2 linked regions of the Homo sapiens genome follow. The protein of the gene in region 1 purifies or fractionates together with the protein of each later gene. This does not show direct contact. Each region holds a gene or a part of one and is shown on either strand. Other genes may lie near its edges.

The links.
Region 2: the proteins of SLC25A37 (region 1) and TTYH3 purify together in Homo sapiens (affinity purification with mass spectrometry; one large-scale study listed by BioGRID and IntAct). This does not show direct contact.

What each region holds. Positions count from the first base shown.
Region 1 is NC_000008.11:23,535,247-23,539,057, forward strand, and holds part of SLC25A37 (mitoferrin-1), read left to right. Parts: intron 1-1,587; exon of another isoform or gene 1,588-1,658; intron 1,659-3,811. UniProt on the Homo sapiens protein: Mitochondrial iron transporter that specifically mediates iron uptake in developing erythroid cells, thereby playing an essential role in heme biosynthesis.
Region 2 is NC_000007.14:2,648,791-2,652,601, reverse strand, and holds part of TTYH3 (protein tweety homolog 3), read right to left. Parts: intron 3,036-3,811; coding exon 2,963-3,035; intron 2,690-2,962; coding exon 2,614-2,689; intron 416-2,613; coding exon 360-415; intron 1-359. UniProt on the Homo sapiens protein: Calcium-independent, swelling-dependent volume-regulated anion channel (VRAC-swell) which plays a pivotal role in the process of regulatory volume decrease (RVD) in the brain through the efflux of anions like chloride and organic osmolytes like glutamate.

The sequences.
Region 1 (3,811 bases):
ATGCGCATGCTCCCTGGCCTCAGCTCCACATGTCTGGGCAGCTGCTTGCATCCTTCACGAGGGTCCTGTTGCCCCTTAGCTCCCCACCCTATTGTTGTCAGCCTCAGCCTGGCATCTTGCTTCCATGTCATAGGGAAACCAGGACCTCAATCAAACCCATCTTCCTGTCACTGTCCTTCCAAACTCTCTTGCCTTCTACCCCCACTATAAGGGAACAGGTGTCTTCATTCCTTTAAGGTATATCAATGTGGCAGAGAAGGGAGATGTATACAAACCACCTTGACACCAGGATTTGAATACTGGCTGCACACCTGGGCACATTACCTAACCTCTCTAAGCTCAGGTTCCTTCTCTGCAAAGTGGGGATATGAATACTGTATTAGTCTGTTTTCAAGCTGCTGATAAAGACATACCTGAGACTGCGTAATTTATACAGAAAGAGGTTTAATGGACCCACAGTTCCACGTGGCTGGGAAGGCCTCACAATCATGGCAGAAGGCAAAAGGCACATCTTACATGGTAACAGACAAGAAAGAGGACAGAACCCAGTGAAAGGGGTTTTCCCCATATAAAATCATCAGATCTCGTGAGACTTATTCACTACCATGAGAACAGTGTGGGGGAAACTGCCCCCATGATTCAATTACCTCCCACTGGGTCCCTCCCATAACACGTGGGAATTATGGGAGCCACTATTCAAGATGAGATTTGAGTGGGGACGCAGCCAAACCATATCAAATACCAAGAGCTATTTTATAGGGTTGTTGTAAGAATTAAATGAGGCAACATATGTAAAGTTCTTGCCACAGTGCGTGGTGCGTACGTTGTCAATAAATGGTGATGGTGATGTCATTTTTGTCCCCTCACTCTTGAGTGACTCGGTTCCAGGATCTTTAGGCTTCCTGCTCCATTGAGTTTTTCTCAAAAGTGTTTCTACAGATCCAAGCCCATCCTGTCTTAAATAAACCCCAGACTTCTCACCTTGACCTCACATGCACCCCCAATGTTTCTTCCCATAAACAAACTGTTGCCCCTTTTTTTCCTCCTTAAAACAACACATGTTCTGAAAGAACTATTGACACTGGTCTCTACTTCCTCACTGCCACCCCTGCTTCCTGGCTTTTGCACTGCCCAGCCGCAGCCTCACAGAGACTTCTGGCTACCCATCATCTTCCTGGCCCACCCTGCTGCCTCTGTTCCTGCCAGGGGCACCTCCGAGAGGGGGTTGGCCCTGCGATCCTCAGTTTTCCTCTTTGGGCATGGCTTCTCCTCAGGAATGTGCCCTTCCACCTCATTTTCCCCAGCACACATGCCTCAGTTTCCTCCTGGGACCTGATGGCTCCCAGATCACTATCTTGGGCCCAGACTTTCTGGAGCTGAATCTCCAGTTGCCTCGGAGCCTCCTCAGACTCAGTGTGGCCAGAATGGTGGTCCTGGCTTCCCCTCGGGCCTGCCCTTCTGCCTCCTTCTGCACCCTGGGATGGTCATCAGCTTTTCTCCCACTGCTGCCCTGTATGCAGGGAAGGCCTGCCTGTGGCTGTATCTGTAGTACTTCTTGAATGTGTTTCCTTCTCTCCCTCCCCACAGCTACTTACTGCCTTGGTTCAGGGACCTGGATGTCTCCTCTTCCTTGAGATCCCAGACTGCCCAAGTTAAAAGTGAGTTTAGGCCGAGCTCAGTGGCTCACGCCTGTAATCCCAATACCTTGAGAGGCCGAGGTGGGAGGATCACTTGAGGCCAGGAGTTGGAGACCAGCCTGGGCAACATAGCGAGACCCCATAGGTACAAAAAATAAAAACATTAGCTTGGTATAGTGGTATGCGCCAGTGGTCTCAGCTTCTTGGGAGGCTGAGGTGGGGGAATTGCTTGAGCCTGGGAGGTCGAGGCTGTAGTGAGCTATGATTGGACCACCGCACTCCAGCCTGGGCAACAGAGCAAGACCCTGTCTCAAAAAAAAAAAAAAAAAAATGAGATTACTCTCCCCTGCCTCACATTTCCCTATTGCCCATTGCTGCTTTGTTTTTCTCCCCAGCAGTTGTTACTTCGTAACACACACCATCGTTTATTTATATTGTTTACATATTTTACTTATATTTATAGTATTATTTGTATTGTTTATGGTCTCTCTTCCCTCATCAGAATGTAGGCCCCAAGTGGGCAGGGATGTATGCTCTTCTGTTCACCACTGTATTCCCATTGCCAGAAACACAGTAGGTGCTCAGTAAGTATTTGATGGAGGAGCTTCTGCAGTTCATTCTGCACGTCAGCCATGGCTGGTCCTGCTCTTCAGCCTCCAAGCCCAGCAGCTTCCTGGTGGGCTGCAGTTTTCTCATCGGAAATAGAGAAGAGTAGCAGTGCCGATTCTGCCTCCCTTGCAGGTCGTTTTAGTGCATCTAGTTGGAAAATACAGGCAGGTTTGCAGGGAACACAGTTTTCAAAGTGTAAAGCTCAGTGCAGGTGCTAGGTCATGGTGTTTTTTGTCACACTGGGATCCTGCGGGAGAGGTAAGTTTAGCTGATTGGAGTGGAAGATCCAGCCCATTCTTCGTGGTGCCTGCCGCAGAGCCTGCAAGCCTGCAGAAAGACAGGGAGTAGCCACGTCTTTCTGTAGTTCACACCTGTGTGTCTCCCCACCTGATAATCCCTCAGCACTTCTGTTTGCCTTGCATGTAAAGCCCGACCTTTGCATGGCAGGCACACAGACTGAAACTCTTTCCTCCTCCAGCCTTTCTTGGACTCATCCACAGAATGACAAAGAAGTATTCTGTGAATATTGGTTGAATGAAGGAAGGCACGGCTTTTTAAAAAAGATGAAAAAAAAAAAAGTTATGAAAAGCTTTAAAACTTGCTATTGGCTGGGCGTGGTGGCTCACACCTATAATCCCAGCACTTTGGGAGGCCGAGGCGGGCAGATCACCTGAGGTCAGGAGTTTGAGACCAGCCTGGCCAACATGGCAAAACCCCGTCTCTACTAAAAATACAAAAATTAGCTGGGCGTGGTGGTGGGTGCCTGTAATCCCAGCTACTTGGGAGGCTGAGGAAGGAGAATCACTTGAACCTGGGAGGCGGAGGTTGCAGTGAGCCGAGATCGCGCCATTGCACTCCAGCCCGGACAACAGAGCGAGACTTCATCTCAAAAAAAAAAAAAAAAAAAAAAAAAACCAGAAAAAAAAACTTGCCATTAAACAAATTCCAGTTTTGATTTTTGTTTTGCATTGGTTTTGAATCCATGCATGTTATGGCCACAAAGAAGACTTTCTTGGCTCCGTTGTTTGTCGTGTGTGTGTGTGTGTGTGTGTGTTTGTGTGTGTGTGTAGAACCCAGCAAGCAGCAGCTATACCCCGATGAGGCAATGTCTTCATTTGGCCACTCATGTCATTCCACGTTTCCTGAGTGCCCTCTTGGCTAGGCACTGTGCTAGACACTGGGCTACAAAAATAAGAATGCCTGGTCCCCGTTCTCAAAGTAAGCGTGCTTCCTATAATTAGACCCTGAGCTAAGGCGACAGAACCAGCTCCCTTTCAAGACAAGAGTCGCCTGTCTTGACGGACTTTCAGATGGGCTGGAAGAACAAGGTCTGGCGTGTATGGACTCTGAACTGCTCAAGCTGCTGCCGTCTTGCAGGTCTAGAGCCTACAGGGTAGCGTCATTCTAGTTTCTTTGCTGGGCACTCTGGAATTTGTTCTTTCTCCTGCGAGAGACAGTGGTCCTCAGTTGTGTTCCCTCCCCACCATCCTCACCCTCCCTCCCACGGTGGTTAGTCATTCTGGAGGCTCAAGTTGGCTCACAGAAGGTGCTCTTGAAAACATCCC
Region 2 (3,811 bases), on another chromosome or scaffold:
GGTGCGGCCGACCTCTTCAAACTCCCCCACCAGGACGCCTGAACACGGTTACCCTACAGAGGCATCCCTGGGGCTCCTCCTTCCCCCACCAAGGCCAATCCAAGGAGCAAAAGCAGTCCCAGCGATGCGGGTGCATTGAGCAGGTCCCCCCGAAAGGCTCTCAGCCAGGTCACCAGGTCACCGGCATGGTAACCCCAGGGGCTGTTGGTGACATCCACACAGCCTTTGTCCAGCTCCCTCCCCCAGTTCCCCAGTCCTGCAGGCTGAGGAGCCAGGCGCCAGGCCTGCTGGGCCCCTCCACACACAGCAATGTGCTTCAGACTCTCCTGAAGCCCAGTCCCGGCCTCCCAGGCTCTCACCTGCTGGAAGGGGTTGGCGGCGCGGGGCGAGCAGGCCAGGTAGTACTGCAGGATGTCTGCGGAGAGACATCAGGGAAGGCTGAGCTGCAACAGCTGTCCCTGTGAGACTGCGTGCACGTCTGCCTGTGTCTGCACGCATATCTTCAGGGCATCTGCGTGCATGTTTACATGTGTGCATGTGTGTCTGTGTGCACCTGTTTACACATGTGCATGTGTCTGCATGTTTACTTACACGTGCATGTGTCTCTGTGCACGTTTCGTGTGCACGTGTGCCGGTGTGCATGTGTCTGTGTGTTTATATGTGTGCATGTCTGTGTGTACATGTCTTCGCATGTGTGTCTGCATGCATTTACACACATGCCTATGTCTGTGTGTGTGGCAGTGGGGTCTGGGCTCCCATCAAGCCAGAGTCCCCACACACTGCCCCTTGCCTGGGTTCCACCTTCCGAACTCTTTACAAGTTCAGTTCTTCCAATTATAAAAGAACATTAAAAAAAAACATTTTAAAAGTTCAAAAAATGATGAAAGTATTTAACAACATAGGAGAGCACCAGGCATCACTGTGGCCGCCTGTGCAGTGAAGCCAGCGTGGCTGGCCTTGCTGCCTTCTGGGAGGGGCTGTCTGGCCCGCAGGCTGGAGCTCACACTTACGTGTGTACATGTACACGTGTAGGGGGCGCTGCTCATACTTGATGAGATCCCCCCAAAGGCCGCCGGCTACAGTAGGGACCTGGAGGGACCAGGATGATAGCACCGGGGCCAAGGACAGTGGTGGGTAGCACTGAGCGGTCACCAGCCCTCCCCGCCCCTAGCAGAGCGGGCCCACCCCTCCACCCTCGCCCCCGAGGACAAGGTCAGTGGGCGGCAGATGACTTTTCCTCCAGGAGGCTCTTCAGGCTTTGGTGGAAGTGGTTCCTTCAACAAAGGCAGGTAAAAAACCAGCCCACAAGCCAATCCTGTGGCCTCCAGGGACAAAGGGTGGCAGGATGGTCACCTTCAAGGTCATTCAGTAACCCTCACCCCCACAGGGACAGGCCTTCTATTTCCTATTGGGGAACACACAATAATTCCACAAGGGGGGCCTGAGAAGCTTAACACACTGACGGCACCCCGATCTCCAGATTCCCACGTCCACCTGCCTCTGTGCCGTCCGACACACATCGCAAACCTCCCGAGGGGGCCGAAACTCCCGATGCCCCAGCTCCCTGCCCCCCACCTCCAGACCTGCTCCCCCACCCACAGTACAGCTTATGGTCCCGCAGCACAGAGCTGCTGAAACCAGGGACGCCAACTCCTGCTCCGTCCCTCTCGCTCCCTACATCCAACTGACCGGGAAGTCCTGCCAGCTCCGCCCTCAAAGCCCATCCCTGTCCACCTTTTGCTCCATTTATTCAAGCCCCTGCTGTCTCCTGCTTGAGGTATCCTCCTCACCCACTCTTGTAACCCTTGAGGCCTGAGGAAGCTTTGAAAGGGACCTTCAATCATGGGTCAAATCTCTCCCCTGCCTCCCTCCCTCCAATGGCCTCCCCCTGGAATAAAGCGAAGCTTGCCACAGAGACTCAGCCCCACTGGCCTCCCACCCTCCATTCTCCCCTCGGGTCTGCCTCCTGCCTCGGGGCTCTTAGAAGAGATGCAGCGTCCTTCTGGCTCTACTTTTTTTTTTTGAGATGGAGTTTCACTCTTGTTGCCCAGGCTGGAATGCAGTGGTGCGATCTCGGCTCATTGCAACCTCCACCTCCTGGGTTCAGGCAATTCTCGTGCCTCAGTCTCCGGAGTAGCTGGGATTACAGGCACCCACGACCACACCCAGCTCATTTGTGTATTTTTAGTAGAGACAGGGTTTTGCTATGTTGGCCAGACTGCTCTTGAACTCCTGACCTCAGGTGATCCACCCGCCTCGGCCTCCCAAAGTGCTAGGATTACAGGTGTGAGCCACTGCACCCAGACCTCTGGCTGTACTTTAATGCCACCCATTTGGCCTCCCCTGGGCATCTACTCGAAGCAGCCCTGGGTCACCTGCCGCTCCCCCTGCCACGCGGGCACCCGCCACCCCACATAGTTCCTGTCATTCTTTGCAGAGCCTCCCACTTGGGAAAGGTGGTCCTGTTTGCTCACTAGCATCTTGGCCTGGGACCTGTCTCCCTGAGACCATGGACCCACAGGGCAGGGGTGTCTCGGCCTCAGCTACCCCACTCTTTTGGCTCAGCCCAACCCTGGGGAACCCGCTGGGACACGGCCGTGGACACAGACTCACCCCCACTCAGCACCGAGTACTCCTCCACCATTTTGGTCACGTAGGCGTCAGGGTCCACACAGAAGTCGCTGGAGCCCTGAGGTGGGCGTGGGCAAGCAAGAGGGGTTGACCAAGCTGGGCCTAAAGGGAAGCTCTCGGGGGTAGAACCCGTCCCCTGGAGTCTGCTTTCAACTCAGGAGGGTGGACTGTGAATCTGGGGTTACAGGTGGACTGTGCCCATGGTGGGTCCCCACCGCTCTCGGGACCCAGTGCCCGGGAAGATGGGAGGGGAGAGGAGTGTGGCTTCCCCTCGTCCCTCCCCCAGTGCCCAGGTCCAGCAGCCGGGGACCTCACCCCCTCTGCCACTCACCACGGACACAGCCAGCTCCAAGCCCAGCGCGCCCCAGCTGATGACCAGGGCCAGGACTCCCAGCAGGCAGACCCTGGGGCAGAGACAGCCAGTCAGCAGCCCCCAGGCCAGGGTGGGGGCCGTGCCACCTGCTGGGCTGCAGGCCAGAAGGCAGGTCCCAGTGCACATCAGGGGTCAGCCCACACATGGGCTGGGGCTCTTCCTGTGGCCTGGCCTCAGCCAGAGCTGCCCACAGCCCAGGGCCCAGATGGATCCCTCTCCTAGGTGGGGTGGGGCTCAGAGATCTGAGCTGGAAGCAGGACTGGAGGGCCACGTGGCTCTTGGGGCCCCGCCCCTCCTGTCCCCCAGGTCCCTCTCCTGAACAGGCAACAGTGTCCACTTTCACGTGGGTCCCCGCATCCCGCCGCCCACGTAGCAGCCCAAGGGGCCTGATAACGTCAGCTAGATCAAGCCCTCCTGTGCTGAACCCTCGCTCAGCAACTGGGGACTCAGAGCTCTTGCTACGGCACTGGCCTCTCCCTCATCTGAGGCCTCACCTCACCCACATCTGGCTCCCTTTGATCCAGATACACAGGCCTCCTGTGCATACCCCACTGCAGGTGCCCCCACCACGAGTCCCCCATATCCCAGTTCAGATCCCCAAAACACACCCCAGTGCAGGCCCCACACCCCACTGCGGGCCCCACACCCCACTGCGGGCCCCACACCCCACTGCGGGCCCCACACCCCACTGCAGGCCTGCACACCCCACTGAGGACCCCACAACCCACTGCACACTGTCATCCTTCCTGTCTGTCCAGGCGTCCCTTACTCCCTTGGGCCCCTGCTCAATCCCTCCTCGCTCAGGTC